Linked DNA regions of Homo sapiens: all the other regions are linked to region 4. The links come from fine-mapping of genetic effects on gene expression. A gene starts in region 4. Each other region holds a variant in brackets. All regions are shown on one strand. Distances are from middle to middle.

Region 1 (8,243 bases), 230 kb after region 4:
TTTCAACACTGGCTGCACAAAATAAATATCTGAGGGAGTTTCTGAAGTATACCACAGTGTGGGCCCTACCCCAGAGGTACACTGTAAGCAAGAGTATTTTTTAAAAGCCCTGTAGTGCAGCCAGGTTTGAGAATATTTAGTTCACTATTTGAATGAAGGAAGGTAAAGATAAGAAAGGGAATGAAGAAGTAATGGTGAGGACTCAATATTAAAAAAGTTATTTTGTATATACTTGTTTTAAACTATTAAGTGTATTTATATAGTTGTTTTAAAAGATCAAACACACCTTCAAAAGGAAGTTTGTCACCACTCAAGGTATTCAAAAAAAAAGGTTACAAACTTAGAAGATATTTTCAGAGTATTTTGAGCCCTAGCACAATGGCTGGAATGTATATGGCTTCTACCAATACAACTATGTTGAAGGGGTACTATACAGCTGTAACCCACAATTCTTATTTGTTAAAAAACTATGTAATCCTATTAATTTTAATCCCTGTATAGTTAGTTACTAAGCTTTGTTTTAAAAATCCCAGTGGCATTTATTATGTTTTAAAAATCCCAGTGGCATTTATTATGTTTTAAAAATCCCAGTGGCAAAAACTTAAAATCGATGACAAGTCCGTATTTTTGTAAAAAGGAAAAATGGCAATTTTCTTATCCACACTCTCAGGTTCATTGCACTGTAACTTGTCATGGAAGCCTAATCCCGAGACATTTATCTGAAATACCCAAAGCTTTGCACATTTTCTGATATATAATCTGACTGTCTTAGTAGGTGACATTTCCCATGCTTTGGATATGGGCCCAATGTTTCTCTACTCTGCTGTCTGCTATTATATTTTTCTATCTTTTCCAGTTTCAATTTCACTATTATTTAGACAGCATTCAACTCTGTTCCAGCCATTTTATTTTCCTAAATTAGAGTTTTTCATTTTCAAATAATTGCTGAATATTCTTGATGCCATATGAGGGTTGTCATCTCTGATTCCTTTTCATATGTGAAGGTTAGGAAAATATATATTGGATTTTAACGGCTCCTTCCTCCTGTCTTTAATTTTTTAATCAATAAAAAAATGTGAGAGATAGATCACAATCCTGAAAAATATAACCAGGACAATATATTACCTTCATTATATCAAAGGAGATATAATATAGTCCTCAGCTATATTCCAAAAATTCATAATAGAATTATATTGTAAATATTATTTTAATATACTTAGAGTATATGATATGGTTCGGCTGTGTCCCCACCCAAATCTTACCTTGAATTGTTCCCATAATCCCCATGTGTCGTGGGAGAAACCTGGTGGGAGGTAATTGAATCATGGGAGCAGTTACCCTCATGGTGTTCTCATGATAGTGAGTTCTTGTGAGATATGATGTTTTATAAGATCTGATGAGCTTTCCCCTCTTTTGCTTGGCACTTCTCCTTGCTGCTGCCATGTGAAGAAGGATATGTTTGCTTCCCTTTCCACCATGATTGTAAGTTTACTGAGGCCTCCTCAGCCATGCTGAACTGTCAGTCAATTAAACCTCTTTCCTATATAAATTACTCTGTCTCAGGTATGTCTTTTTTAGCAGTGTGAGAACAAACTAATAGAGTATATTTATAGTAAAAATAAACACAATTAAGTATTAAAAATCATGCATTTAAAAGGAGCATTAACCATTTTAAAATAAACATTATAAATATCCTTTATAATTTTAATAGTATGTTTTTCTCTTGAGAATGTGCTGGGCTATTAGAAAATAACTGATACTAGACATAGTACTTTAATCTCTCAATTTCATAGAGAGTTAAATTTAAGAAAGAACATTAAATGTAATCTCTAGGGTACTGAACTGAGAAAAGTTTTTTTTCAAAGTATCTTGATTATTTTTCATATAGAATATCACTCCTTTCTCTCCCTGACCTCAAAGCCTAGCTGCTGATACAGGGGGAAAAATATTTAGATAAGTTTCTATGTTTTTATTTATACTCAAATGCATATAATTAAAACAATTTAATAGAGACTATAAACTTATACTGAAAGTTTGTGTATGCAACTAGAGATGTAAGATAATTACATCTCTAGTTGCTAATACACTGAATAGCTTTTAAATGATAATAATAACAAAGATAAAACTTACTCTTAGGAACTTAAGACCTTGATATTGCAGAGATCTTCAAGGTAAGCTCCAATTTTTTGAAGGGCAAGCCATCATATAAAAGCATGCTAGTATAAATGAAAAGTTAAGATGGGTTTATTTTTATAAACAAATTCACTTTTCATGTTTTATTTATCTTGAAAAAAGCCACAACATATTTCCAGAACTATTATGACCAGAGGCTGTTTTTGGAGGTACAGTGTGCACATAGCCAGCGTGCAAAGCTAGGCTGGTATGCCTGCTATTTCGTCCTTTGTATGAAGATTTTTTTTTTTAGGTGGTTGAACCATTTTGATTTGATAAGCACTGACCTGCACAGTGAGGATGTAACCTTCATTGCCTACCCTGGCATGTTTTTTTAAACAGCTAGGTAAACAAGATTCTTAATTGTGACATTTCCTATGAGCATGTGGTTTTGTTTTCAGCACAGAAGTATACATTCAGAGGATATTCTGAGAATTCTTGGCAATAATCTGAAATGACTTCAACAACTTGAACAAATTGTTCTTCTCCATTTGCTCAAATAATTATGTGTCCTTTTGGCTTATCTGTGAGAGTCCTGTTTACCTTTGATGTTGCTGGAATATTTCTCTGATCACGTGGTCAGAGTCTTTAACTTGTGTCTCAATTTTGTTACAAGTAGAAGCTTATTAATATCTAACCCTGTAGGCATTGCGGAAATATTTCAAAGACTCTTTAGCCAGCAGAAGTATGAGATATTTTCACTTCCTCAAAGTAATAACAATAATAGTTATCAATATTACTATAAAATAGAGAAAATGTTTTGGAGCCAGAGATTGTAGAACCTGATCTACATTAAACTTCTGGAAGATTGACTCTAGTTGGCCCACTGGAGAGTCTTTGTTAGGCAGTAGGTGCAGATGTGTGCTTCCTTTAATGAGCTATAAGCAGGACCCATGTGAATGCATGAACATTACCTCTGAAAGAATTAAAGAGGGCATCCAAGGTAGACCCCAAAATACATTCTCAGGGAAACTGGAATTTAAAAAAGTATGAAAAAGCTTGGAATCTGTGTTAAAAGAATACGAATTATATATAACTATAAGAACAAACATTACTGGTAAGTAAACAGAAATAATTTCAACATCAAGAATGCCTCAGTTAGGTGTTACATTCAATTTACACAAGAACAGACACTTATACTAGAAACATATGTTGTTAAAATAATTCCCATAGTCATTCTGGGGGAAGTAAT[C/G]TAATAGAACTCTTTATGTGCAGATGAGAAGATGTAAAACCATAGTGGTTAGGTAATTTTTTTTAAAGTCTGGAGGAACCATTGCTTAAGCTTCCTGCTCTACAAATCAGCTTAGACCATTTCACAAAGCCACTCTACCATTCTAATCATTTTCTTATATACTTAAAAGAAATTGTATTTCCCATTTTCTTTTGAAGTATTTTATTAACAAATGCAAAGTGTTTGATAATGGAATATCTATTAATTAGGCTAACATATTGAATTCTCATTTTGCTAAGAGAATATTTTCTTAAAGAGTTTTTATTCCCTCTTCTTTTACTTCCCTTTTTGAGGTTTTTCTAAGAATGAACATTTAAGTAGTGCTCTCAACATTATACACTCCTGAAAAAAGACATTTGCAGCCGGGCGTGGTGGCTCACGCCTGTAATCCTAGCACTTTATGAGGCCAAGGCGGACAGATCACTTGAGGTCAGGAGTTCAAAACCAGCCCGGCCAACATGGTGAAACCCCGTCTATACTAAAAATTCAAAAAATTAGCCGGGCATGATGGTGCACGTCTGTAATCTCAGCTACTTGGGAGGCTGAGGCAGGAGAATCGCTTGAACCTGGGAGGCAGAGGTTGCAGTGAGCCAAGATCATGCCACTGCACTCCAGCCCGGGCAACAGAGTCAGACCCTGTTAAAAAAAAAAAATTTGCTGTGATCAATGTCCTGCGGAAGTGCAGTGAAATAAAGGCTGCTCTAAAGATTTTAAGGCTTGCTTTTTTATTTCTTGTTATCAGTATTTGGTCTTTCTGAGAACAATGTCTGTAGTATAAGCTTCTTAGGGTTGCTGTAACGAAGTGTCACAAACAGGGTGGCTTAAACTACAAAAATGTATTCTTGCACAGTTCTGGAAGCTAGAAGTCTGAAATCAAGATGTCAACCGCGTTGGTTCCTTCAGAGGGCTGTGAGTTTCATCACTCTCTCCAAGCTTCTGGTAGCCTCAGGGGTTCCTTGGCTTCCAGTGTCTTCACAGCATCCTCTCTGTATGTCTGTCTTTGTGTCCAAAATTCCCCTTTCATAAGGATATAGTCACATTAGATAAGGGCCAACTGTAATGACTTCATTATAACTTGATCATCTTCAAAGATCCTACTTCCAAATAAGGTCACATTTGTAGCACTTTGGGGATTAGGGCTTAAACATCCTTTTTTTTGTCTTTTGAGAGAACACAATTCAATCTATAACAATGTCATATCCAGGGTTAATGAACATATAATAGCCATTTATATTCTGATGTTTGTAGACCATTTCATTTGATCATTTCCATTAGTTTTTAAACATAACCCAATGACTAACAAAAATATCTTCTCTCATTTCAATATCCCACCTAAAGATATTTCTATTTTTATCACCTTACAATTGCACTTCTTAAAAAAAAAAAAAAAAAAAGCAACTATTCTATGTTTGTGGTCTCTATTCTCTCTCATATCCCACATTCACTTTTCTTTTTTCTTTTCTTTTCTTTTTTTTTTTTTTTGGCAAAAACTTTTTTTTGTTTGTTTGTTTGAGATGGAGTTTTGCTCTTATTGCCCAGGCTGGAGTGCACGTGGCACAATCTCAGCTCACTGCAACCTCCACCTCTCGGGTTCAAACCGTTCTCCTGCCTCAGCCTCCTAAGTAGCTGGGATTACAGGCACACGCCACCACACCCAACTAATTTTGTATTTTTAGTAGAGACAGGGTTTCACCATGTTGGCCAGGATGGTCTTGAACTCCTGACCTTGTGATCCACCTGCTTCAGCCTCCCAAAGTGCTGGGATTATAGGCGTGAGCCACTGCGCCTGGCCTCACATTCACTTTTCAGCCCACTGTAGTATGTTTTTACATTACATCACTCTGACAAAACAGCTCTTAATAAGGTTAACAATGATCTCCATTTTGCTAAATTCAAGATTTTTCCTGTCCTCAATTTGCTTATCTCTTCAGGATCATTGTTCAAAGAAGCAATCTACAAGGGGCCTTAAGCATCCCTGTATGTTCTTCCTGGGCATGCTGTGAAAGCAAAGCCCTTGCTATACTTTACTTGGGCCATTTCTCTGGGTTGTATTTCCAGCAAGCAACCCTGAGAAATAAGGTAGCATTTTCCAAAAGAAAAACCACATACTTGTTTCCACTTTACCATATAAGTGGTGAATCTTCCAAACTTCCTAAGTTTCCCTCCAGTAATGCAACCCACTGCATGTGCAGGCATCCATTATGGGCACTTTGTGTTATTCCATGGACCTGGAGGATGGGGGAACCCATGCAAGCATCATGTTGCCCTCTGAACTACTGTTTGTGCTATGAATAATGCAGTCCTTTGTCTCTGAACCAAGAGTCATGTGTTTTCTGACAGCTTTGCTAAAATAGTAACAGACTAACTTATTAGCTTGCAGATGGTGAAAACTCACAGAATCTTTGTAGTTCCTGATAATTATTTGATATTATTTGGCATTCTTGAAATGCCACCTCTCTGACCATGCCGTTTTGGTTTCTCTTGCAAGCAGTTCCTTTTCTACTGGGTCACCAAATCCTGTAGATTTTTGAAGCCTTAAAATAACTTTTTCTGTTATAGTCTCTCACTGAGAGACTTAAACACATCCACAGTTCTAATTACTGTGGTGGTGTTCAGATTTATTTCTCTAGCCCAGAGCTCTTCTCTGGGCTAGTTGATCCAACTACTGATTTGACCTATCACTTGCATATTTTCAAGATATCATTAATTCATGACATACATGACCATATTTGTGGTCTTCCTCTTCTATCCTTGTCCTCTTTCATTATTCCGTCTCATAGTAAACAAAATCTTCATTTATTCATTTGCTCAGGTACTCTCCTACTGTATCCCTAACTCTGCCTATCTAATCCATCACCAAGGCCAATTAATTACCTTTATCATCTCAATATCCATGGAATCAGTTTTTCTTTTTATTGTTACCTTCACTCGGTCCTTACCTACTATTAGTGGACCTCCTAACAAGTTCCTCTACTTTCATTCTGCTCTTGCTCCTATCCATTCTTCAACTGAAGCCAGAATGAGTGATCACTTTAAATCTTACGTTGTTCAGTCAGGAGGAATAAGTTCAAGAGATCCACTGGACAATATGATGACTACAGTTAATAACAATATATTGCATATTTGAAAATTGCTAAGAGAGTAGATTTTACGTGTTCTCACCACAAAAAATGATAAATATGTGAGGTAATGCATATGTTAATTAGCTCGATTTAGTCATTCCACAACATATACATTTTTCAAAAGTCATGGTGTACACCACAAACATCATATACAATTTTTTTTTGCCAATTAAAAAATAAATTTAAAAACTCACATTGAATCATGTTACTCCCTCACCCCTCCATCCCTGTTTAAAACCTTCATTGCACTTAAGGTAATATAATCAGTTGACTGGTATTCATTCTTTTTATTGCAGCCCATTTAAAGCCTTCAGTGACTTCCCAGTCAGATTTGGATCCATTATTATACGGTCAGATATAACCTTGTTTTCTTCCTTTGAGGACTTTTCATTATTATTTTATTGGCATGATTATTAAATTAATGTCTATTTCCCTTCTCAGACAGTAAGTTCTATGCGAGTAAAGACCACTGTTTGAGTTAGCTCACATTGTAACTAGTAGTGCTTGTCTCAGAATTGGCACTCATATATTTCAGACTAAACAAAAGAGAATGAACACTTCAGAGAAATAGCCACTCATTTTTTCTTATTTTTTTGGTTGTACTTTAGCTAACAATTGGTACAGTAGCCAAGACAGTATTTTAAAATTATAAATCAAACCATGTTACGCCCTTACTTAAAACCCTCCGTGACTTCCCATCACACTTAGAATGAATCCAGATTCCTTACCTTGACTGTAAAGTCTTACATGATTTACTCCCTGGTTAACCCATGGCATTTCCTTTAGCACTCTTCCTTTCACCCACTTCCATAAAGGCACACTGGGCATTCCTCCCTCATTAGCACACAGAAGCCCATGTGCCAACTGCTCCCCTTAATCTTTCATTGATTTATTTTGCCACTTGGTCTCAACTTAAATATCAACTAAAATTTATCTGTCAATCAAATCTTAGGCAGTGGTTCATTCTTTCCTCAGTACTTTTCACAATTTAGTACCTTTTCCTATCTGCTCGTCTATTTATTTACCATCCAAGTTCTATCACCTCTATACACACGAAAACACAGCCCTAACCACTTTCTTGTTCATTGCTGTATCCCCAGAACTTATAAGAGTACCAAGTACATTGTAGTAACTCAGTGCTTAATTGCTGAATAAAAAATATATATTAAATTCATGGATCAGGTAGTTTCCACCAGTGCCTTTGGTTTAGGAAATAAAAACAGCTTCTTATATGACCAAATGTAAAAGTAATATGATTTCCATCATGGCTCATAACAATTTTTATAATTTGGAGTTTGTCTTCAAATCAGCAGAGAATCAGTACGCTTGACTTTTCTGTTTACTTCATCACTGATTTACCTGGGGAAACAGCTGCCTATAGCCCCTTAGCAAAGTAAAATTAAGCAAAGATTTAAACTAATGTGACAGAATCTTTGGATATCCAATTTGGGGTTAGTGCAAATCCAGAGGAGGCAAAAGATCACCTAACACTCCTCCAGTCTTCAAATGTACCATCCTGTACTCTCTCCGTGTTTGGATTTGAAAGCAACAGCCTGCACAACCAAAGACACTTTATCATCTTGTGAAAAGTAGAACTTAAATATTTCAGCCTCTTTACCTTTGAAATATGGATGATTTCTTTTTCCTTTTTTTTCTAGTTCTATAAAGGTACTACCTTGAGCACTCATACACAGCCCATTTACCTCTGCTTTATTTAT
Region 2 (8,243 bases), 47 kb before region 4:
GCTTAGGTTTGAATGGTTAACAAAGCCTAGCATCTTCTCACTATAGTTTATTCATCTCATTCAACAATTATTTATATAATATATATAATACAAAATATCTATTTTTCATCTATGTTATATATACTTGGACCAAACTGATGAAAACAATGAAATTGTCTCTATTTTCAAGGAACTTAAAAATTAAATAGCAGACCCTGAATAAGAGAATACAACACAGAGAATGTAGTGTAAAAGTATAAAATTCTAGAAATTTTAATAAGTCAGCAGTGGGGTGAAATGGAAAGATATCAGGAAAGCTTCTGGAAAAAAGTCACTAGACTTGAAGAGTAAGTTTACCCAGGCGACATAAGAGCCTTCCTGGAAGAGGAAATGGGGTGTGTGAATGTCTCGGGTGGAAGTGGGGCTGGGAGACATTTTTGAAAATAAGGAAAGTTCAGAAAAGCCAAAGCTTGAGTACAAAGGTGATAAAGAGGAGATGAATGGCACAGGGGAATTAGGCAAAGGACATGTCATGCTGGGCTTTTATTATAGCTCATATCAAGGATTTTAGACTTCATATTAGAAGTTATGAGAGGCTACTGAGACATTTTAAGTAAGAGGTAACATGATCAGACTTAAATATTCCAAAATTCTCTCCAGCTCTATTATGAGTATGAATTGCACAGTATGCAAGGGAAATGTAGGGAGATGAGTTAGCTATTGCAGTAATTCAAGGAATTATGAAAATGAATTATATCTAATTTATTAACATTTATCAGTAATTCAAGGAAGAAGTTATCAGTAATTCAAGGAAGAAATGATGGTGGCTTGAACTTAAGAATACGGCAATGCATAGAAATAAGATGAGTGAAGATGTGTCAATGATAATTCAGGACATTGGTCTAAAAATTGGTCGAATGGTGGTAACATTTATCAAGAATGGGAACACAGGATGAGGAGCAATACGGAGCAATTGCATAATAACGGTTACTATTATCAATAATAATAATATGCAATTGCTGAACTATTACTGTGATCCATAAACTGAGCTAAGTATATTATATGTATTATTTATGGTGTGATTTTATATATAATTTTCTCACAACAATGCTCTGAAGCAATTATTCTTATTATCACAATTTTATAAGTAGAAAAATTAAGAACTGAAAAGTTTAGTAAATTGACCAATATCACATAGCTGGAATGTAGCAATGCCAACTATATAGGGTGTATTAAAAGAGTGTTAAGGAGATATTAAATGTTACATTTGGAAAAACACAGCTTCAGGCACATTAAAGTCTTCCCTTAAGGGTATAAAGTCTTACAGAGACATCCTAATGACTAAGTATCCTTCAATGTAAACAGTGATAAGGAGAGTCTTATCCTTAAGACTTATCCTTATCCTTAAGAGAAAGAACAAAGTCAAGTTGAGAATGACAGATGCAGCAAAGAATCAGGAGCCAGATAGAAGCTAATAAAAATGGGCTGAATTTGGGGACAAGGAGAGAGTTGCAAGACTGCCCCAAAGAGCTTTATCCAGCATATCTGGTTTGTCTTAGCAAATAAATTGCGCATGTCATACCTGGTTGCCTTAAATTATAGAGATACAATGGAGAATGTCAATTTGAAAAGCCAAAAACAAAATAATAAACTTTCTTTAGGCCCCAAAATATTTTAGTTTCTATATGTTTTAACTATACAAGCTACATATAGCATGACAGCAAAGCCTAGAAAATAAATTATCTTTGTAAAGTGTAATGATATTCATTTATGGTTGCATCAAAGCAAGCCACTAGCAAAAGTATAATGAACATAATATTTTGACATAAATCTGTGGAGGTAACTTGAAAAGAAAGAGGGCACAGAAAGAAAACAAATATTTTAGGAAAAATATATCACTTTAACAGAAATAAATAAAAGGTTATCGATTCAAAAAAACTAATTTATGTGTGACCAATTTGATGCAACATGCTCATTGTTATGGTTTCCAGAAGAGAACCAATAAATGTTTCTTTGGCTGATATTAATGTGGCCTTGGGGCTGATCATCAGGTTGTTTTCCTTTAAAAGAAAGCTGTTGTCAGTGGACAGAAATGTTTATTTCCTATGCAAAAGCTAATGCTGGGGATTTATTATTTGTTGATCTCAGCTTATCTTCTACTTTACACAATTTTTGCATGTCTTTTATTTGCTGGGCTTCCAAAGACAGCATGGACGCATCTATAAGATTTATTTGTATCAGGAAAACCATATGTTCCATACTTGTTCTTTTTGAGGCACTTCGTCTCAACTAATTAATCCTTAAAACTCTCTGAGACCAAAGGGATGAAAGCAAGTAATTATGTTTACAGAGAAAGCAAATTGAGGTACCTTTCCTGGAGTCTTTCAGTAAATAAGCACGGGAAAATGGACATCTATCAACTCTTCCAACATGTGCTCTAAAAAGGACTACGCTGCATGTTCAGGCTGCTAGACTTACAAGTCATTCGAAACACTGTTTAACAGAGGAGGCCAAACTATCCAGGCTGACATAGATCTCTTGAGTCAGCTCTATTTTCACAGCTGAGGCTCTAGGTCAGACGATATCTGCTTTTTCCCCTTATCTTCACATTAGCTTCCTAAATGCTCTCCCAGCTTTAAACTCACTCTCTGCAGACATATCTTAAACAATGGCATCAGGGTTATCTTTCTCAAATAAAAATTGGGTTTTTTCATTTCCTTGGTCAAAAGCCTTTGATGTATTCCCAATATATACAAAATAAGATCACACACCTTGGCCTAGAATTCAAGTCCTTCTTCAATATAATTATAAGTTATGCTTTTAAAATTTATGTCCCCCTATATTCTGACCCTTAGCTCATTTTTCACAAATAAACATAACTGCACATACATATAAGCACACCAGCACCCTACATTTCAGTACCCTGAACATGCTCTGAGCTTTCTCAAATCCAAGTCTTTCTTTGTTCATGCTGTTTTCTAGAGAGCGTTTAAACTTCATAGCAGCCTCCTCTTCCTTTCTAGGTCACTTGCATAAGGAGGCGTTCCAATTCACTCCATTCAGACAATCCTGTATTCCTATTCTATCTCACAGTTTCCTATTCTATCTCACAGTACTTTATTTTTGTTTGTTTGTTTTTGAGGCAGGGTCTTGCTCTGTTACCCAGGCTGAAGTGCAGTGGCATGATCTTGGCTCACTGAACCTCCATCTTCTGGGCTCATACAATCCTCCCACCTCAGCCTCCTGAGTTCCTAGGACCATAGGTGCGCAGCACCACACCTGGCTAATTTCTGCATTTTTTTTTTTTTT[TG/G]TAAGATGGAATTTCATCATTCCATCGGTTTTGCCCAGACTGGTGGCAAACTCCTGGGCTCAGGATATCCGCCAGCCTCAGCCTCCCAAAGTGCTGGGAATACAGGTATGAGCCACTGCACTCGACCATTTATGCATTTCTTCATATACTTTTACTGACAACCGTAAATTAACCTCTGTGTTTCTGTCAATCACTGGATTTTAAGTCACTAAGTAGCAGAACTATATCTAATTTATTAACATTCATCATCCCCCTTTGCCAGCATTGAACATGATGTTTTGCATATAGTAGGCATTAAATTTGCTAAATGGAACTAAATAATGTTTGATAAATAACATCATGGCACATGACCATATTAGGCCTAACTAATTATTTATTCTTCCATTTAGTGAGTGCAAAACTTTAGTCAAAAACATTAAACATACTATTTTCTAATTACCTTATTTTGCATTATTTAATTGAAAGAAAGTGTAATTAAAAGGAGGCCTCTAATGGACAAACACACATTGCAATAACAGCAGCTGTGGACACTTTACTTATTCAGTATTAAGTCTGTTCTATGTCAACTATGGAGATTCTTGACATTGTTACATCTGTACTTCCAAGCAACCTATTAGTTAGCTATCAATGATCTCATTTTACAGATTACAACTGAAGTTCAGAAATGGGCTAGGTGACTTATCCCACATCCATCTACTATGCACCAGAGGAGGAAGTAGATATCAAGTATGTTTGACTAGAGTCTGCGCATATTCTAGCCTACAGCACAATCACCCAGGTCTGTAAGATTGGAAAGATGTGCAAATGTGTAGAGAGAAGATGGAGACACTATTTTCTATTCTTATTTACAAGAAAATGTATACAGAAATTTAACATCAGAAGAAATACTGTACAAATATACACATATAACCTAAACTATATGGTGTTATCACATGCATTTTAAATCATATATAATAATTACAAAATGTTATCTCCACTGACACCTATCAAACATCAGTCACTGTATGAAGCACTTAATTCACTAATTAATTTAATCCTCACAAGGGCACTGAGATAAATAATATCATTATTCACATTTTACAGTCGAAGAAATGGAGAACTTAGAGATGTTACTAACCTGTACAAGGTCACGTGTCACTATGCTAGTTGGTGGTAGAACTTTTGTTTAGAACTGGGTCTACCTGAATGGCAAGATATATTTCTTAACTACATGCACAAATTAATAGAACCCAAGCAAAACTTAAGCATCTAAAACTGTTAAATTTAGATAAATATTTAATCATGTTTTGTTTATTATATGATGAGTGATTTATCGGCACAATGTTTATGATCATTTCCTTTAAAATCTTTCCTTGAGAGAAATTCTATTTAATATTCCTATTAACACACCCATCAGTTCTTATTTTGTATCTAATATAAAATGTTAAGCCCTTTGGATGAACATTATGTATTTTGTATTTTTATTCACACATATTCCAAGTATTTTCCAAAATTAGGTGGCTAGGAAAACTTTTTCTTAAGTTAAACAAAACGTCATTTGCTTTCTCCTCATGTTGACTTCTGGGGCTCAATGTAAGTTGTTTTTCTTCTGAAGAGCATAACACTTAAAACTGTAAATCATCTCACGTGTAAAAGAAACAATATGACACTTTCAACATTCCGATTCTGAATTACAATTCTTCTACTTCCCAAACGCAAAAGTGCAAATACAAGATTAATAATTTGCATAAAATGAAGTCCATATGGATCGCTAATTTTACTAGATTTGAGTATAAAATTATTCTCCTTTATTTTACCTCTAACAGTGTTACAGTGAGAGGAATACATCTGCTTAAATTTCAAGTACTGCATTTCAAATTAATTATAATTATATAGCTCAAGTATTATCTATCATATCAGTTCACAATGAGAATAAAGCACATTTGTTTCTAATTCTTTTTGACCTTGATGTTCTTTGTTTCACCACAGTCTTCAAGGTTATTAAGACAGAATCCTGAAGGAAACCAATGTCCTAATTATTTGGACACATAGATCTATTCCTCCCATTCTAATATATTAAACATTTAAGAATTACTTTATAAAACCATAGACCTGAAAATGACTCTAGAGGTTTATCCCTTCTTTCTCAGGGTTTTACTTATAGCATTTTATCCTGATGCTATTAGTCCTGACATTAAATGCCTCTAGGGGAAAAGATTCTATTTCCTCCTTCAGCAACCTGTTTCAGTTCATAAAAATGCCCTTATCAGTATGAGATTTTTTTCGCCTTTGCTCCTGTTTACAACATAAATTTTTTATATGTGATTAAATCATTTCTTATACTTTTCATCTTTAGAATAAAAATATTCTCCTCCTTAATTTTAGGTTATACTTCTTTTCTAGGTTATGGGATCCTAAACACAGAGGACTGTAGAGCTTTCTCTGTGTTCTCTCCAACATCAGAAGCTATCTATGGCAGCAGGTGCCTAGTCACCTGAGGATTTCTGTTGTCTTTTAGGCTGGAAGAAGTCCTGTTCAGCTCTCTTCAAATGACTACACAGCATCTCTAAACTTTGAGCACTGCATATCTATTCTCCCTTTGTCCCTTTGCTCATTTTTGATGAATAATATTCTCATAGACAGTATTCCCTAAGATGGGAATTACCCGTGTTACAAAGAGCGTTATGAAAATTAAATGAATGGAAACGTGTAAAGAGGTTAGAACAGTGCCTGCCACATAGTAACAGTTAATAAAATGTTAGCTAATGCTCCTGATGCCATTGTTACTATTCCTATTATCCCAGCTGCTGCTGCTGCTACTACTACCACTTCCACTGCTACTATCACTGCTACTGCTATTTCTACTGCTACTTCTGCTGCTGTGGATGCTGCTACTATGCAATGAAAAATGTACTTTCTTTTACCAAGTGGGACATCCAGAAGTGAACTGGAATGCCTTAATATATTGAGGATAACCTCCTCCTAACTCCCAGCTCTTCTGAATTGCACAGTTGAGCTGGGTTCTCCCTGATCAAATGATCTCTAACACAATTATTATCCACTTTATAAAGATACTGCAGCAAATTTATACAGATCAGGGACTCTAGGATCTCTGGCCCTTCACTATTCCTGAGATCTTTCTGACAGTCTGTCATGTTGTAAGAGCTGCATTAATGTTTTTCCATTACCATTAATAATTGAAAGCTCATCTAATAGAAATATCTTTCAATATTATATGATGTTTAACAACTCCATTAATGGGTTAGGAGAAGTATGGTATACACAAGTATAGAAAATTCTAGGGATAAACCAAATATGGAATTCCTTAAAAAGGTCTACAATGGGAAAAATTACACTTTTTCCTCTGTAAGTTGATGTCAAAGGGTGTTTTGAATATAATTATCATTTCATAACAATTTTTATTTTCAAAGTGCCCCACAATCATTTCTAATATTTATTCTTCATACAAACCCTCACAAGAGAGTACTGCATTCATCAAACATTTTTTCACAGATGAAGCAATTTAAGAATGGGTCAAAATGTGATTAGATTTCACAGTCTCTGAGTTGCTAGCCTGCTGTTAAGTCAATTGAACCTGCCTGCCTCGGAAAGGTAAACAGAATAAATGAGTTAGCATTTAGATTTACAAATGTATCAACAGTGGATCATAAAACAAGTTAGCAAAGCCTATATCCCCGGAGATACAGACAATACGGTGGTATTACATGGTGGTTCATGTATGTGTATATGTTTGAGTATTTATGTAGTACCACATAACTACATAAACACTCAGAGTGGTACTACATAAAGACTCAAACATACACACGTACATGAACAAGAAATGGACATTAACTCTTCTGACTTACTTCACCTTAAACCAATTCTAATTTTCAGATAGATTTTACGGTAGATGTCTTGGTAGACACTACCTTTTTTCCTCTAATTTAAGACAATTTGTCTTTGTGGTTATTAAGGTGGCCTAGCCAACCTGCCTTTCCCATTGTGCTAATTCTGGGTGACCCATATTGGCAATCTTGGAGACAACCTACAAATAGTATGGGTAGTCAGGTGGTTCTGTTACAGCATCAAAAGATGACTATGAGAGTAAAATAAAACCAGCACTGTAAAGATACAAGGGCCAAATTCAAGTTCCGGTTGGTACTCCTATTTTTAAAGATAGGAATAAATGTCATGACACATTTTCCCAAACTCACAGAATGTACAACAGCAAGCGTGAACCCTAATGTAAGCTATGGATCATGGGTGATAATAATGTGTCAACGCTGGGGTCATCAGTTGTAACAAAGTACCTCTCTCATGGAGCATGTTGATAATGGAGAAGGCTATGCACATGTTGCAAAAGGGGATATATAGGAAATTTTTGTACCTTTTGTTGAATTTTGGTGTGAATATAAAACATCTCTAAAAAATAAAGTATATTAGAAAATACAGATCAATCTGGCCCAAACTCGTTGTTTAGCTCCTATTGGCAATATATGATAAAATAATTCATTGATTGTTAGGACAGGAAATTTCTTTTCTTTTTAATTTTTTTTTAATTTCTATAGGTTTTGGGGAACAGGTGGTGTTTGGTTACATGAGTAAGTTGTTCAGTGGTGATTTCTGAGAGTTTGCTGTGCCCATCACCTGAGCAGTGTACACTGTACCTAATGTGTCATCCTTTATCCCTTGCCATTCCCCAGCCTTTCTCCTGAGTCACCAAAGTCCAATGCGTCATTCTTATGCCTTTGCACCCTTATAGCTTAGCTCCCACATATGAGTGAAAATATATGATGCTTGGTTTTCCATTCTTGAGTTACTTAACTTCGAATGATAGTCTCCAATTCTATACAGGTTGCTGTGAATATCATTATTTCCTTCCTTTTTATGGCTGAGTAGCATTCCATGGTGTGTGTGTATATATATATATGTCACATTTTCTTTATCCACTCATTGACTGATGGACATTTGAACT
Region 3 (8,243 bases), 36 kb after region 4:
TGGTATGTGAATTATCCATGCATAAGGAATAGTCTGAGTGTTGTGCCAAATTTAAATTCTAAGCTTTCATGGAAGATTTTCTAGAAAGCTCTATGAAGATCACTTCTCTCAGAAACATACTCCTTATTACCTGTTCCTATCTTAACTTTCTTAAATCTGACTTCAGTCTTTGCCAGTGTACTGAAACTGTGTTGTGGTTTCCTTCTTGCCAAATCACAAAACATTTCCTCTGTATTCATATGGAAACTGCTTCTTTAACTTCAATATCACTGATCTTTTCTTGCTCTATTTCTACAGCTTTGTTAGAACAAATCCAGTGGCCCTTTCACAGTCCCTTACCATTGATTCCTTGTTTTCTAGCCAGGGGTATTAACAAAGACCCAAGTTGTAGACATCTTTCTTCTTTTTGTCCATTTTTGAAAAAGCCCCTCCTTCCCTCACTCCCTTCTTTCCTCTGTACCTCCCTCCCTCCCTTCCTTTCCCCTTTTATTTCCCTTTGCCTTTCCCCTTCCTTTCCCTTCCCTCCTTTCTTTTTTATTTTTTCTTTCCTAGCTCCCTCTGTTCCAATCTCCCTGTGAACCTAAAGTTTGCTGTTAGCTTAGTTTTTAGTGGTAATCTTTCTTTAAACAAATGTCCTTGATGGATAACTGTAGCTCATACATGTTTAAGTAGTACTCCAAATTCATACTAACCCTACATTTTTATCCTATTGGCCAGTTCCACTTGATGTCTTATAGCATTGCATCAGAATAAGCTAGATTAAAACTAACATTATCAACATAATTGTCACTATGATACTCTTCATTTTTGTCATTGTCATCTGCCTACAATCAGATTCTCAGCTCTTGAAAATTCTTCTATTCTGTTTCAATATACATCCTATTTATTTATATTCATAGTTGACACTTAATAATTGTGCATGTTTATGGGGTACAATGTGATGTTTTGATACATGTATAAATTGTGTAATGATCAGTTCAGGACAATTAGCATAATCCATCACCTTAGACATCATTTCTTTGTGATAAGAGCATTAAAAAACCTCTCTTCTAGCTATTTTAAAACACACAATGCATCATTATTATCTCCAGTCATCCTCCTATGCAATAGACCACAAGAATTTATTCTTCCTAATTGCAGCTTTAAATCTGTTGATCAATCTCTCACCACCTACCCTCTCCATCCTCTACTCTACTACTACTCAACTTTCTGCTTTCATAAGAGCTATTTTTCAGATTGAATGAGATCATGCAGTATTTGTCTTTCTGTGTCTGCACTATTTCACTTAACATAATATCCTCAAGTTTCATCCATGTTGCAGCAAATTACAGGATTTCACTCTTTTTAATGGCTGAATAATATTCCCTTGTATAGATATACCACATTTTCTTTATCAATTTGTCTGTTGATGGACATTTGGGTTGATTCCATATTGTGGCTATTGTGAATAGTACGGAAATAAACATAGGAGAGCAGGTATTTCTTTGACATACTGGTTCATTTCCTTTTATTAAATATCCTGTAATGAATTAACTGGATCATGTGGTAGCTCTAATTTTAGTTTTCTGAGAAACTTTCATACTGTTTTCTATCATGGTTGTACTAATTTACATTCCCTGAAGCAGTGTAAAAGAGTTTCCTTTTTTTCCAAATCCTCAACAACATTTATCTTCTGATTTCTTTGATAGTAGCCATTCTCACTCAAGGGAGGTGATACCTCACTGTAATTTTGATTTGCATTTCTGTGATGATTAGAGATGCTGAACATTCTTGCACATATTTATTGGACATTTGCATGTCCTCTTTTGAGAAATGTATCTTCAGGTCTCTTACCTATTGAAAAAGCAGGTTACTTGTGCTTTTGTTGAGTTGTTTGAGCCCTTTATATACTTTGGATACTAGCCCCTTATCAGATTTATAATTTACACATATATTCTCCCATTACATAGGTTATCTCTTTGCTCTGTTGATTTTCTCCTTTGCTGTGCAGAAGCTTGTTGGCTTGATGTAATCCCATTTAACTATATTTGATTATATTGCCCATGTGTTTAAGGTTTTATCCAAAAAAATCCTTGCCTAAACCAAGCTCTTTCTCTATATTTTCTTCTGGTAGTTTCATAGTTTTGGGTCTTACATTTAAGTTTTTAATCCATCTTGAGTTAATTTTTGTATGTATTAAGGAATAAGGGTCTAGTTTTATTCTTCTGTATGTGGATATATAGTTTTCTCAGTACCATTTATTGAGAAGGGTGTCCTTTGTTCAGTGTATGTTCTTGGCACGTTTGTCAAAAACAAGTTGGCTGCAGATGCATGGGTTAATTTCTGGGGTTTATGTTCTGTTTCATTTGACTATGTATCTGTTTTGTTTTTGTTTTTGTTTTTATGCTACTACTGTCCTGTTTTTGTTGCTATGTCTTGTAGCATATTTTAAAACCATGTACAGACATCTTCAGAACATTCTTTCCAAAGCTCTAGAATACACACATTCTTCTCAATGGCCCATGGGACATTCTTCATGATAGATTACATGGTAGGTCACAAAACAAGTCTCAGAAAATTTTTTAAAATTAAAATCATATCAAGTGTTCTTCAACCACAATGCAATAAAACAAGAAATTATGACAAGAATTTAAGAAACCTTTCAAATACATTGAAATTAAACAACATTCTTCTGAAGAACTGATGGATCAGTGAATAAATTAAGGAGGAAAATTTTTAAATTCTTGAGATAAGTGATAACGAATACAACATATCAAAACCTGTAAGAGATAGCAAAGGCTGTTCTAAGAATGCAGTTTATAGCAATTAATTCCTACATGGAAAAAATGGAAAGATCTCAAATAATCTACTTAACAATACAACTCATAAACTAAAAAAAAAAAGAAAAACAAATCAAATGCAAAATAAGTAGAAGGAAAGAAATAATAAAGATTCGAACATAAATAAAATAGAAAACTAAAAAAATTATTAAAAAATTATAAAAGATCATTCCTTGAAAAGATTATACTGAGAAATCTTTAGTTAACCTATGGAAAAAAGATATAAGACTCAAATAAATAAAAGCAGAGACAAAAAGGATCATTACAACTAACACTACAGAAATACAAAGGATCATTTGAGACTGGTTTTTTTTTTTTTTTTTTTTTTGAGACAGTCTTGCTCTTTCAGCCAGGTTGGAGCACAGTTGCATGATCTCGGCTCACTGCAACCCCCGCTTTTCAGGCTCAAGCAATTCTCCTGCCTCAGCCTCCTGAGTAGCTGGGATTACAGGCATATGCCACCATGCCTGGCTAATTTTTGTGTTTTTGGTAGACATGGGGTTTCACCAGGTTGGCCAGGCTGGTCTCCAACTCCTGACTTCAGGTAATCCACCCACTTTGGCCTCCCAAAGTGCTGGGATTACAGGCATGAGCCACTGCACCAGCCCATTTGAGACTATTATGAATATGATATACCAACAAATTGGAAAACTTAGAAGAAATAGGTAAATTCATGGTGGACACATACAACTTACAAGATTGAGCCATAAAGAAATAGAAAATTTGAGCAGACCAATAATGAAGAAAAAAATTGAATAACAAATATTATAAAGTTGCAAGATACAAAATCAATGTACAAAAATCAGTAGCATTTCTATACACCAACAGAGAACTATCTGAAAAAGAAATCAAGAAAGCGTTCCTTTTGCCAGTAGCTACAAAGAGCACATAGGAATAAACTGAATTAAGGAAGTGAAAAATATTTACAATTAAAATTATAAAACATTGATGAAAGAAATTAAAACAGACACAAAAAATGAAAAGATATCCCATGTTCATGGATTAGAAGAATTTATATTGTTAAAATGTTCATACTACCCCCAAAAAATCTACAGCTTCAATGCAATCTCTATAATAGTAATGAAATTTTTTCATAGAAATAGAAAAACCAATCCTAAAATTCCTATGGAAGCACCAAGGACTCTGAATAGCGAAAGCAATCTTGAGCAAAAAGAACAAAACTGGTAGCATCAGTATAAGTTCTTTTGCAAAACAAGCAAGCAAGCAATCAAACAAGACCATTGGATTGATCCTTTGAAATGTATCTCAGATCTCACTGCTTTCAACTTTGTCTGACTCTTATCATCTTATGATAGTACCAACGGTTATGGTTTCCTAATCATTCTTCCTGTCATTAGTTTCTTCCTTTTTCCATCCACCTTATATATATTATAAAATCCTTCACATGAAAAATTTATGTAACGCCTAATATGTAAAACACTGAATTAATCATGTTATTCCCAATTATTACATATTCCAATAATTTCTCTTTGAATTCAAACTCTTCAATGGGGCATTTAAGATGGTGTGCCATCTGATTGAGATTTCTTTCTATAGTTTGGCCATGCATTTGCTTGAGTCAAATTCTCTTCTTGTTTTAAAGTTCAATAATAAAATTATATTTTAATTTTATTTTTAAAATTTTTTCTTTAATAATTCTAGCCATCATGTCTCCTGTTTCTCTTAATTCTGACAATTTGTGCTACACATTTAATATCTCTCTCCTATTCCATATATTATCTATTCTAAAATACTGATTTAACATTTACCATATGCTAAATAAATACATGAAAAACTCAAAATATTCCCATTAGTATCTCTGTTCTAAAATCTAAGAAACTAAAGCTTAGAATGTTTAAACAGTTGTCCCAAATCAATACGCAATACATCTAAGATTCAAGTTTTGACTTTAAAAGTATGATTTTCTAGTATATTATACTGAGGTGTTTCACCTTGTATTATTACAAGGTTTTTTTTTTTGAGATGTAGTCTTACACTGTCACCTGGGCTGGAGTGCAATGGCATGATCTCGGCTCACTGAAACCTC[C/T]GCCTCCTGATTTCACGCGATTCTCCTGCCTCAGTCTCCTGGGTAGCTGGGATTACAGGTGCACACCACCACACCCGGCTAACTTTTTGTATTTTTAGTAGAGACGGGGTTTCACCATGTTAGCCAGGCTGGTCTCGATCTCCTGACCTCGTGATCCACCCGCCTCGGCCTCCCAAAGTGCTGGAATTACAGACGTGAGCCACTGGGCTCGGCCAATTTTTTTTTTCCTTTTTTTTTTTTTTTTTAGATGGAGTCTCACTCTGCTGCCCAGGCTGGAGTGCAGTGGCACTATCTCAGCTCACTGCAAACTCCGCCTCCTAGGTTCAAGTGATTCTTGTGCCTCAGCCTCCTGAGTAGCTGGGATTTACAGGCATGTGCTACCATGCCTGGCTAATTTTTGTATTTTCAGTAGTGATGGGGTTTCACCATGTTGGCCAGGCTGGTTTTGAATTCCTAACCTCAAGTGATTCACCTGCCTTGGCCTCCCAAAGTGCTGTGATTACAGGCATCAGCCACCACGCCCAGCTACATCAGCATTTAATATAATCTTTGATGAGGAGAGTGTAAGAAAAACATCAATGCAATGAATGAGTGGATGAATATTTTAAGACTTTAAGTCTAGTGCTCCCAATAATTTAAGTTGCTTGGGAGCAACTAAACATAAAATCTTAAGTTTAAGTTTAAGATTTCAAGTTTAGTTGCTCCCAAGCAACTTAAAATATTTGTTCTTGTCTTATACTAATGTATATATCTTTAATGGCATTACAATTGTAAGCATTATAATTGCTAGTGCTTATTGAAACTTTACTAGTGGTTGTATGTTACATGTGTTTTCTTATTTAATCATCAAAATCCTCATTAAATTATTTTTTTCAATTTGCACTTAAAGAAACAGAAGTTCGAAGAAGTATAAAAAGTTGCCAATGGGTACATAGTAAGTGCCATAGCCAAAGATTATATGTGGCTACACTCACTTCTTATTCTTGTCCACTTCACTGTGCAGCTTTGCAATAAATACTCAATGATTAAATACATGTGCCCTCCTGAGCTCTCCTGGGGATTTCAAAGAACTGAATGCCAAAAGTTATCTGAAAACAAGCCTGAACACATCGTTTACCATGTAAACTGAGGTGGCTGACTCTATTACAGTGATTCATTTTGCTTCTGGTGGTGTTGCACATGTGGTGCCCAAAGGTCTCATTTTCCAAGTCAGTTTGTCTGAGTGACCATTTGGACCTTTCTTGCTTTCCCTCTGGGAATGGCTGAAGCCATTATTCTCCGCTGTGCTTTGACTACAGGGTGAGCCAGAAATCACAGGAAAATGTGTGCATCCTAAATCAGTGTGCATATTTTGGGAAAATAGGATAAATGTGTAAAATTACTGCCTATTTAAGTATTTGTGTATTTCTACAACATTTGTTACAGTCAAATTGTAAACATGAGCTGCAATTGTGAAATTTGTGTCTTAAGTTATTACAAGTATACCTTGGAGATATTGCAGATTTTGTTCCAGACCACTGCAATACAGCAAATATTGCAATAAAGTGAAGTGAGTCACACAATTTTTTTTTTGTTTCCCAGTGCATATAAAGTTATGGTTATACTGTACTGTAGTCTATTAAGGGTGCAATAGCATGTCTGAAAACAATGTACAGACCCTAATTTAAAAGTACTTTATTGCTGAAAAATGCTAACAGTCATCTGAGCCTTCAGCTAGTGTCATTTTTTTTGCTGGTGAAGGGTCTTGCCTAGATGTTAGTGATTCCTGACAGATCAGGGAAGTGGTTGCTTTGCTGAAGGTTGGGATGGGTGTGGCAATTTCTTAAAATAGGACACCAGTGAAGTTTGCCACATTGACTGACTCTTTCATGAAAGATTATCCTTAGAATATGATGGTGTTGGTAGCCTTTTACTCACAATAGAAATTTTTTTCAAAATTGGAGTGAAACCTCACAAACTCTGCTGCTGCTTTGTCAACTAAGTTCATGTAATATTCTAAAGGCTTTGTTATAATTTCAACAATGTTCACAGGATCTTCATCAGGAATAGATTCCATCTCTAGAAACCACTTTTTTGGCTCATCTGTAAAAAGCAACTCCTCTTCTGTTCACATTTTATCATGAGATTGCAGCAATTCAGTCACATCTTCAGGCTCCACTTCTAATTCTAGCTCATGCTATTTCTACCACATCTGCAGGTCCTTCTTCCACTGCAGTCTTGAACCAGTCAGGTCTTCCATAAAGGCTGGAATGAACTTCTTCCAAACTCCTGTTAATGTTGATGTTTTGATTTACTCCCATGAATCACCAATGTTCTTAATAGTGTCTAAAATAGTGAATTATCTCTAGAAGGTTTTCAATTTACTTTGCCAAAATCCATTAGAGGAATCACTATCCATGGCATTTATATGAACTATACTTCTTAAATAATAAAACTTGAAAGTTGAAATTACTTCTTGGTCCATGGGCTGCAGAATGTATGTGGTGTCGGCAGGCATGAAAACAACATTCATCTCCTTATATATCTGCATCAGAGTTCTTGCATTACTAGGTGCATTGTCAATGGGGAGTAATATTTTGAAAGAAAATTTTGTTTTCCAAGCAGCAGGTCTCAACAATGGGCTTAAAATATTCTGTATACCATGCTGTAAAAAGTTTTGTTGTAATCCAGGTCTTAATTTATAGAGTACAGGCAGGGTGGATTTAGCATAATTCTTAAGGCCCCTAGGATTTTCAGAATGATAAATGAAAACTGACTTCACCTTAAGATAACTGGTTGCATTAGCCCCTGGCAAGAGAGTCAGCTTGTCCTTTGAATCTTTGAAGCTGGGCATTGACTTCTCCTCTTTAGCCCTGAAAGTCCTAGATGGCATCTTGTTCCAATAGAAGACTGTTTCATCTACACTTAAAATCTATTGTTTAGTGTAGTCACCTTTATCAATTATTTTAACTAGATCTGGATAACTTGCTGCAGCTTCTATATTAGCACTTGCTGCTTCGCCTTGCACTTTTGTGTTCTGGAGACAGTCTCTTTCCTTTAATCTCATGAACTAACCTCTGTTAGCTTCAAACTTCTTCTGCAGATTCCTCACCTCTTTTAGCCTTCACAGAATTAAGGAGAATTAGGGCCTTGCTCTGAATTAGGGTTTGGCTTATGGAAATAATGTGGCTGATTTGATCTTCTATCCAAACCACTAAGATGTTCTTCATATCAGTAATAAGGCTGTTTGGCTTTCTTATCATTTGTGTGTACATTGAAGCAGCACTTTTAATGTTCTTCAAGAACTTTTTCTTTGCATTCATAACTTGGCTGTTTGTTGCAGGAGGCCTGGCTTTCTGCCCATCTTAGCTTTTGTCATGCCTTCCTCACCAAACTTA
Region 4 (8,243 bases):
CCCAAGTGAAGAAAGAGTTAACTGCAGCGCCCCATCTCCTTGTAAATAATCCAGAAAAGCATTCTTTTTTTAAGCAATACAAAATGTCACCACAGGCTGACGCTCTTTCTACAAGAATAACGAGAATATTGCTATCTCGGATGTTGAACACACACTTCATTGCCTTCATCTCTGAATTCAGTTTTCGTGGTTCATATATTTTTCTCCTCCTTTCAAAACAGGTAACGTGGCACGCCTAAAATATATCAATGACTTTGTAGCGACTACAAGCCGAAAGACCCGGGGAAGCAGTTTCACAAACTCGAGTTTTTGACCTCTACAACTGGACATACACTATTAAAACTGCTCCGGAAATGAAGAGTGGCCGGCAGGGAAGGCAGTTACCCCGCTCAAATGAAGCCGGCCTTTGGCACCGCGCCCCCACCGGGCTCTGCTATGCAGAGGGCTCCGAAGAAGGCGCACTTACTGTCCAAGACTTGCTTCCTCAGTGTAGACACGGCGCCTTTAGTGCTGTAACCTTTCCTTTCAAAACACACTGATACTGCAATGAGAATTTCGGCAATGCCAGCTCGGTAATTCACCGAAACCACGGATCTGAGGGTCCAGGGCCGATATCGGATCCTCAGATTCACGGTGGCTGGTTGCGGTGAGCCGGGGCTAGCCGCTCGCCGAAAGCGCGCAGCTCGGTGCCCCCTGGACACACGAGCCTGTGGCGCCAAAAGAACCACCGTGAAGGAGGTCTGAAAGCGGAACTTTCCCCCTTTTAGCAGTTAAATGTGTAGAAAAACCTATCCTGCGACGTGGCCCGCCTGTGACGGCACCGAAAAGGAAACTGGTTATGTGCCTGTGTCAGGGGTGTGGACGAGGGTGAGATTACATTCTCCAAGTCTCGAGGGGGTTAATCGGAAAACCAACTGTGGGCGTGTGGACGTTTGCATGTTACAAACCGACATCACCCTTGTCCTCCCTTCTTGGCTCATTCCCTGGCTCCAAAGTGTCCTTTCCTCCATCGGACAGTGGAATCTCGAAAAAGTGAAATCCACACTGTGCCAGGCCCAAGGGGGTCTCGCCTTTCCACCTACCTCCCCAGCGTTGTTACACTAGGACACCTGCTTTAAATCCGGTTGAACTATGGTTTCACAGTCCCCGCCCCAGAGCCCGAGATTTGTCAGAGAACGCAGACGCCTTTTTTTTCCCTCAGCCTCAGAAACATCAGGTGAGCTCATTACCTCACCCAGAAATGTAACTTTAATAAAGAGATCTGGAGAGGGCACTCCTCCCGCCCACACACACAGCAACGGCAGCAGCAGCAGCAGCTCGCAAACACTTGTAATCTCTTCCTCAGGCTCTGGCCCCCAAACCCCTCTCCCCGCCAGTTCCTGGGAGAGATTCAGAGGCTTTCAAACCTCTTCTGTGACCTGAGCTTGCCGACAGCTGAAGGGATGTGCACGGATAAAAGGAAGTGAGATTTTTCTTTGATAAAAGCTAAAGAAAAAGCTAAGAACAAACAGGCCAAAATACCAGGAAGTAGGAGTTTAACTGGCAACTGTCTACGCAGGGATAGAAAAAAAAAACTTCAAAGAAAAAAAAATCCCCTAAATTTTCAGTTTAGGGGAGCAAAGGAACCTGCTGCTCTGTCAGGCAACTGTGAGCGCACGGAATACCCTGTTAGAACAACTTGTGTCAGCCGCCAGGCGGGCCTGAGGATACCAGGGCCAGGGGACGTCCCCGAGGGTGTGGAAAGGGATTTCCCGAGAGATATTTTAGTTGTTGGGAATTTTGCCTTTTCTCTCTCTCTCTCTCTCTCTCTCTCTCTCTCTCTCTCTCTTCCAAGACTCAGTACAGAACTGAGAACTGAGGCTCTATGAGCAGGTCCTGGAAATTCACAAACCTCTCACTGAGGTGTCTCCCAGGCCTACCTACTAATTCCTGTTCTGGCTGTGTTATCTGCCTGCGGTCACCCTTTCACTCACCACCCGCCCAGACAATGGACGGGGACCGCAGGGGGTAACGTTGAAACCACGATTTTAAGCTTTAGCAGGTTTCGCAAGGGGGGCGGGGGGAGGTGATTAAAGTCCTCTCCTTCTCTACCCCTCCCATCCCTTCCTCGGCTCACCAAGGGGAAGTTACTAGGGGATTTATCACGAAAAAGTGCCGGCAGTTATTTCATCCGAGAACTAAGCGAAAGAAAAACTGCTCGGGGCGCAGTGACGTGGACTTGGATACCCAGAGACAGGAGGAACTGTCAGAGGGCAAGAGTCCGCCGCCTAGCTGGGAGCCGCAGGGACAAGGGGAGAGCGTCAGGCGAATCCTGCCCACCCCGGAGCACCAAGTTCCTGGAGATTCACCCAGTTTCCCCAGCTTGATGCCCAAACTTGAGCTAACCAGCCAAGCCCAAACGTGCGGCACAGGTGACCGAGCCCGGGGACAGCTCTGTGCCAGGACAGCGGTCCCCTTACCTCCACCACGCGCCTGGGCGCACTGCCTCGGGGGTGCGAGGCTGGGACGGGGACCTAGGAAACTGCTCCAGGCCCACGTCTGTCTGGGGCTGCTCCCAGGCCCTTGCTCACCTGGCCTGAAGACGGTGGCGGAGATCAAGAGGCAGAAGAGCAGACGGCAGGAACTGGCCCCCTTGGATTCCATATTCCTCCTCCTTCTTGGTGGGCCACTGACGGAGTCCACGCCGCAGGAGGGGGCGTCGTCCCGGGCCCCGCGGTGCCCGCGCGCTGGCGGGTCCCGACGCAGGGGCAGCGTCTTCTCCCAGACACACCGTCCCCTGGGCTGTGGCGCTGCACCTTCGGTTCTCTGCCGCACGCAACTTTCCACCACGCAATGCCCCCAACTCCTCCTCCCTCCCGGTCAACACCAGCCCACGGGCCCTTCGGCTGCTCCTCCGGGGACAACGACCCTCTGTTTCCAGGAGACACTTGAGTAATTCGGAAAGGTGTAAGCGGTTCTTTTCGCTGGTATCTTCTTTTATTTTCCTTGTATTGGAATGATAATAATAATGGCAGTGGCAATGTGCATGAAACGCCAGGTGCTAAGAAGGACTCGCAGGAGGCGGCGACGGGGGGGCGGCGGGTCTCCTCAGGTGGCAGCGGTGGTAGCAGCGGCAGCGGCGGCAGCGGTCTCCGGGCTGCTCTGAGTAGAGGGACTGGAAGGCGTGTGTAAGCTGCCTCTTTCCTCCTCTCCCCGCCTCCTCCCTCCCTCCCGTCTCCTCCCCACTTCCCCGGACGCAGCGCAAAGCAGGTGGTTGAAGCGCGGATCCGCAGCCTAGAGGCGCTGCAGGACTGAGTCCGAGCCCTGAGCCCAGCTCCGGGATCAGGGAGAACCGCGTGCCCCGGTCCTGGAGCCCGGATGAGCGGTGCTTCACCGCGGCTCCGCCCCCAGGGCCAGGTCCGCCAATAAGAAGCAAGCACAGGAGCCGCGCGCGCCAGGGAGAGCCCTGGGACTAACACTTTCTGTGATGTTGCAGCGCCCCAGTGATAAGGCCTCTGGCTTCCAACTGCCCACCCACCCTCGCTGAGGTTTAAAAATCGACTGCCCTCTCCCTCCACCCATACGCCCATCCCACTGACTCATTCCTCAGAGATTTTTCTCCGCCGTGCTGCTGCAGCCTTCTGTCCTGTAAAGAGAATAGTGGGGCAGGGCGGTGGCGGTGGGGAGCGAACCTTGGGTCCAAGAGCGGGAGTGAAGGGAAAAGGAAAGGAAAGGGCAGGAGGAAGTGGCAAAGGTGGAAACTTGCTTCTTGGGAGTTAACAGGAATAGCTACTTGTTGGCAGGGGCAACCCCTGTACTGGACTGATTCCTCCTGTACTTTTCGAATCTCTCTCCTCCCCCTGCTCACCCCCACCACTCCCCTCACACCCGGCTGGCATAGACTTGGTTTTAAAGGAAGACTACGTGAGTCGACTGCCCGGTACCAACAGAAGATATTTGCTTTTCCCGGGGGAAATTAAATCCGGAATTTCTAAACCGTACTTCGTCATACGGATTTTCCCAATGTCTACAAAAGCCCTCTAGAGAGCGTGTCACTTTTTTACTTTGAGTTAAGCGGTGATTTTAAGTTATAGACAGAAAATCCTCAAATTATTTCAGATTAAAAGCCAAGTCCGTCTTGGTCCGTTCCCGAAAGCCAGGCACTCCAGCAGATGGACAGGCTTCTTAGGCAATTTCTAAAGATTGAACCACCTCCCAGGAGGAACATCGGGAAGCTGTGTTGCTTTCAAATCAGGCAGAGAGCATGAAGGAAGATTTTCCTCTAGAACACCGGGGTGGAGCTGTCGGAGCCCTAAGTGGCTCTAAATCAGGGATGCAGGATCACAACTCTCATCACCAAAGAATAATAAAATCTTGGTCCCTGAAGCACTTCGCTGGGGCATTAAATAGCCTTTCGTGCATCACAGGGTCACCCTTTTGTGAGACTGGTCTCCAGCAGAGGATGCCAACTAGTAATCGTTACATACTGCACTTTCATCAGAAAACTGCGAGTTACCAGCGAGATTGGAGACTCGCAACACACAGACACACACACACACACACACACTCACACACTGATTTTTAAAATTGTTTATCTTTTAGTGCTCTAAACTATTAAGCCCTATCTTCAGCTGTGATTTTTCTCAAAAGCCTGCTTGTCCTGTTCTTCCAGTTCTCCTTACATTAACAATATTCTAGAGTAGAGCTTTTATACCATATTTTTTTCCTCTCAAAATAAGTAGTTTCTCCCACTTGGTTTAAACATTAACATTTCATTTGCATCTTATGAATCAACAGGAAGGCTATCGCTAGGAGGCAAATGCCTTTTAACTCTATATTCCTTGAGCTAAGCTTGGCTGAAATGCTAGCATTTCCATGGACTCCTGTAGAATTGCTTTAGGGAATTGTTTTCTTTTTCACTGTGGTTGTAAGTGGGGTGTATTAGAATAAATCGACCTGACAATATATTTAACCTAGGTCCGCGAACGCTCTATCTGATCTCCTCTATTTTACGATGGGAGTTAATACAGCATAATTGCTTAAAGGTAGATTTGCAAAAGGAAGACTGATTTGGGCTCTGACACTAACTGTATGATCTTGGTCAACTCACTTAACCTCTTTAAGCTTCAGTCTCCTTTCTTGTAAAAAGTGATAATAGTGCTAGCCTCATGGGATTGCTGTGAAGATCAAATGAGATCAAACACACAAACACACACGTGGAATTCTGGGAGCAACTGACTATACAAATATGTACATATTATACTTATACACAAACACATGCATATATATATGGGCATATGTATAATATATATTTGAATGTGTAGTCCACTGCTTCCAGAATTGTTTTTAGAAAGGAATGTGTCCTAGTTTAGGAAAATGCCTTGATAAGCCACTTGGACTAGTAACTCCAAAGGCTATTGGTCATTAAAAAAAAATGGTGAAACGGCTCTATATTAAACAAAATAATAACCATGAAAATAGAAATTTGGCCTGGGAGTGGGGACGAAGGCAACAATACAAAGCATGAGTTTAGAAATGTTCAAAGGTCTTTAGATCTATTAATTAGCAACACTTACATGTTAGAATATTCTAAGCAATTTATATGAATTAATAGATGTATTCCCCTCATAAAAATTTATTGAAGGAGTTGCTATTTTCATCCTCATTTTACTCATGAAGAAACTGAAACCCAGAGACTCGAAGCAACTTTTCCAAGGTCACACAATGATTCATAGCAATGGTAAAGCCAGGGTTCTACCCAGGCATTCTGATTCTTGAACTGAATTCCTATCTACTTTGCTCATCACTATCCACTTTGCTTATCAAGAATGCGTAGCAATAAATGTATGGTTTTTTTGGTGGGGCGATTGATTTAAACATAAGTTCTCTCATCCTTTCACACACATTTTCATTAAGGAAATTTATTAATAAAGCAGCGCACCCTATCTGCGTAGGCCAGATACAGTGCATATGAGATGACAAGACCACTTCTAAACTGAAATAATGTAGCATAAGCAAGAGCTCAGAGTTAGAAATAAACATAAAAATGTAAGCTCCACAAAGTAATGTAATCGAATTAATCTTTCAAAATCTAGTCAATGTGGGATTGGATCCATCTTACCTAATTCTTGAGAGGAAGAGTGTTTCCAGCTACATGTAGATCACAGTCACTTTTGTTACAATTGAGAATACATAGTATTCCAATAATATTTATTGTATAGTTTAGTCATGCATCAGAGAATCATAAGGGTACATCTTGCTGAAAGGGAAAAATGAATAACATTTATCCAGGGGGAAAAAATTTCACGTTACCTGGGACATGAGAAGAGCTTTGTATTTTAAGTATAAAGGAATTCATCATCAATCAGGATGATATGCTCAAAAGCAGTGACATGGTACCGGAGGCAAGTTTCCTACTTACGGTCTGTTGAGATAAGGACTCAGGATTCCCAAGGCTCAGGCCAGGACCCCTTCCCTGTACTAAAATATTAATCCCATCAGTATGTGACAACATAGCCGAGTCAATTGTGTGTGCCTTTGAAGAATGGAAGTAGTTTTTCTCCCCTGATTAGCACCGCCAAAATTTCCACTGGAGATGAAATTTCAACAAAGATAGTTTTGGAAGCTGAGAACATTTGTTCCTACCACTGTATACCATTGTGTTTTGTTTGCCTTCCTACTCCTTGAACAAAATTGTATGCAGTTCCAGAGCATGCAACAAATCTGATTCACTCTTCTCTCCTTCAAGCGTCACCTACGGTGAATGCATGTTCAGCCATACTTAAAAATAGATTGGACACTTGATAAATTTTTGTGAATGGATGATAAGTGGTGAGAAAAATACCTAATGGAATATAAGCCTTCAAACCATCTTACAAGGGTTCATGATATGAGAAGATGAAAGGGGTTTCCATTGGGTCTTCAATGATTGGTCTAGGCAGACTAAGGTTTAGGAAAGGCAAAAAGAATGAGTCAAGTCCTAGTCAACAAGGTGATAACTATGAAGTATAAAGTGAGGAAACAATCTACAGAAGAAAGGCTGTACTAAAATTATATGCCATCAATTAGAATAAAACAAAGTGGCCCATGCTGAGCACAGAAACCTGATTAGTAAAGGTTCTAGGTGATCAAGCTAGGGCTTAGGCTAATATACTGATGACAAAGATTGAAATAAGGGCCTAAGTGGGATTTATATTAAGTCTAGGAAGAAACACAATCTTAAAGAGGCACAGAGATTACATCTGTATAATATAAAATTCTGTTTTATTCTAGACTCCAAGTTGTTTTTAAGTAAATGATTTCCAAAGTTATTGTATTAAATACACATGGAGGACCTCTGGGTATATCTCTTCCCAAGTCCATTGAATTTTATTGTTTAATTTCAGTTGTTAACAGTATCATCTGTCAATGAATTAATACAATTCTGCAACTCACCTTTTCAATAATGCCAGCTAATAAAGACATATCACTGAAGCTCAGGAGAGTAAAAACTTTCAAAGTCTATGATAAACATTATGTTCTTATTTCACAGAATGTTCAGTCTGGGTACAAAAAGAAATACATAGCTATTTCAGTTGAACTAGAAATCCACTTAGTCATTTTCCTTCCTGTCTCAGACATGAGGAATGAAGAAAGAATTTAGCTACGCTATTTGACTATGAAACTTACACTATATTAAATGAATTTCAAAAACTCTCAGTGTATTAAAAACTCATAATTTGTGGGTGATTTCAGTAAGTGTATAAATTTACATACAAAAAGTGTAAGAGTCTGGGTTTACCCCTTAACTTGAGGATTTCTCTTCAAAGTTTTCCCACTTTCAACTGAAATAAGCAGGTCTTTTAGTTTTGAGTAAGTAGAAAATGACTCAAGGTATGGCTATTTAAGTGTTTGATGCCTTTAAAGAAATTCCAACTTGAATTATATATTTTCAAGAAGTTTCCCAGAGTTATCTCTAATTTCTTTGATATATATTTATTACCCATTATGATCTGCAATAGTTCTATTCAGGAATATGAGGTGAATATATAATGACTGTAAAAATATGAAAATAATATATATTTGATTTTCTAAAGCAAAAAAGTCACTTTGGATCTAATGGATTTCTAGAAAGTCTAATTAATTAATTAATTACTAGGCCCCAATTTTCCATACTATTTTCCTCTTAAGTAAGATAGTTAAGTTCACAGGAAAGTATTAACAAACGATGGTTGGACAAATGTATGTTTTTGCTCCCTAAGGAGCAAAAACTCTATTATTGATTA

Direction of the effects. Alleles are on the strand shown, and positions count from the first base shown. SD is a standard deviation of normalised expression in the study named. Not every link is listed here.
For the expression in Th1/17 cells of the gene that starts at base 3,143 in region 4, TG is the high allele of the variant in region 2 and G is the other (large effect, 1.0 SD a copy in Schmiedel 2018).

The links.
Region 1: its variant is fine-mapped to the expression of ALCAM in whole blood (TOPMed, PIP above 0.99).
Region 2: its variant is fine-mapped to the expression of ALCAM in Th1/17 cells (Schmiedel 2018, PIP 0.95).
Region 3: its variant is fine-mapped to the expression of ALCAM in whole blood (TOPMed, PIP above 0.99).

The regions. Positions count from the first base shown.
Region 1 is chr3:105,135,555-105,143,797 of GRCh38, reverse strand. No RefSeq gene overlaps it. Among named protein-coding and RNA genes, the nearest start is that of ALCAM, 230 kb to the left of the region's middle. The variant C/G (reference allele first, on the strand shown) is at 3,365.
Region 2 is chr3:105,409,290-105,417,532 of GRCh38, reverse strand. All of the region lies in intron 1 of ALCAM (activated leukocyte cell adhesion molecule), which reads right to left. Among named protein-coding and RNA genes, the nearest start is that of ALCAM, 47 kb to the right of the region's middle. The variant TG/G (reference allele first, on the strand shown) is at 3,289.
Region 3 is chr3:105,326,287-105,334,529 of GRCh38, reverse strand. No RefSeq gene overlaps it. Among named protein-coding and RNA genes, the nearest start is that of ALCAM, 37 kb to the left of the region's middle. The variant C/T (reference allele first, on the strand shown) is at 4,867.
Region 4 is chr3:105,361,809-105,370,051 of GRCh38, reverse strand. It overlaps ALCAM (activated leukocyte cell adhesion molecule), which reads right to left and starts at 3,143. Exons shown (of 16, transcript NM_001627.4): 1 at 2,571-3,143. The coding sequence starts at 2,643. RefSeq lists enhancers at 121-621, 622-1,122, 1,459-1,618 and silencers at 2,649-2,768, 3,099-3,198.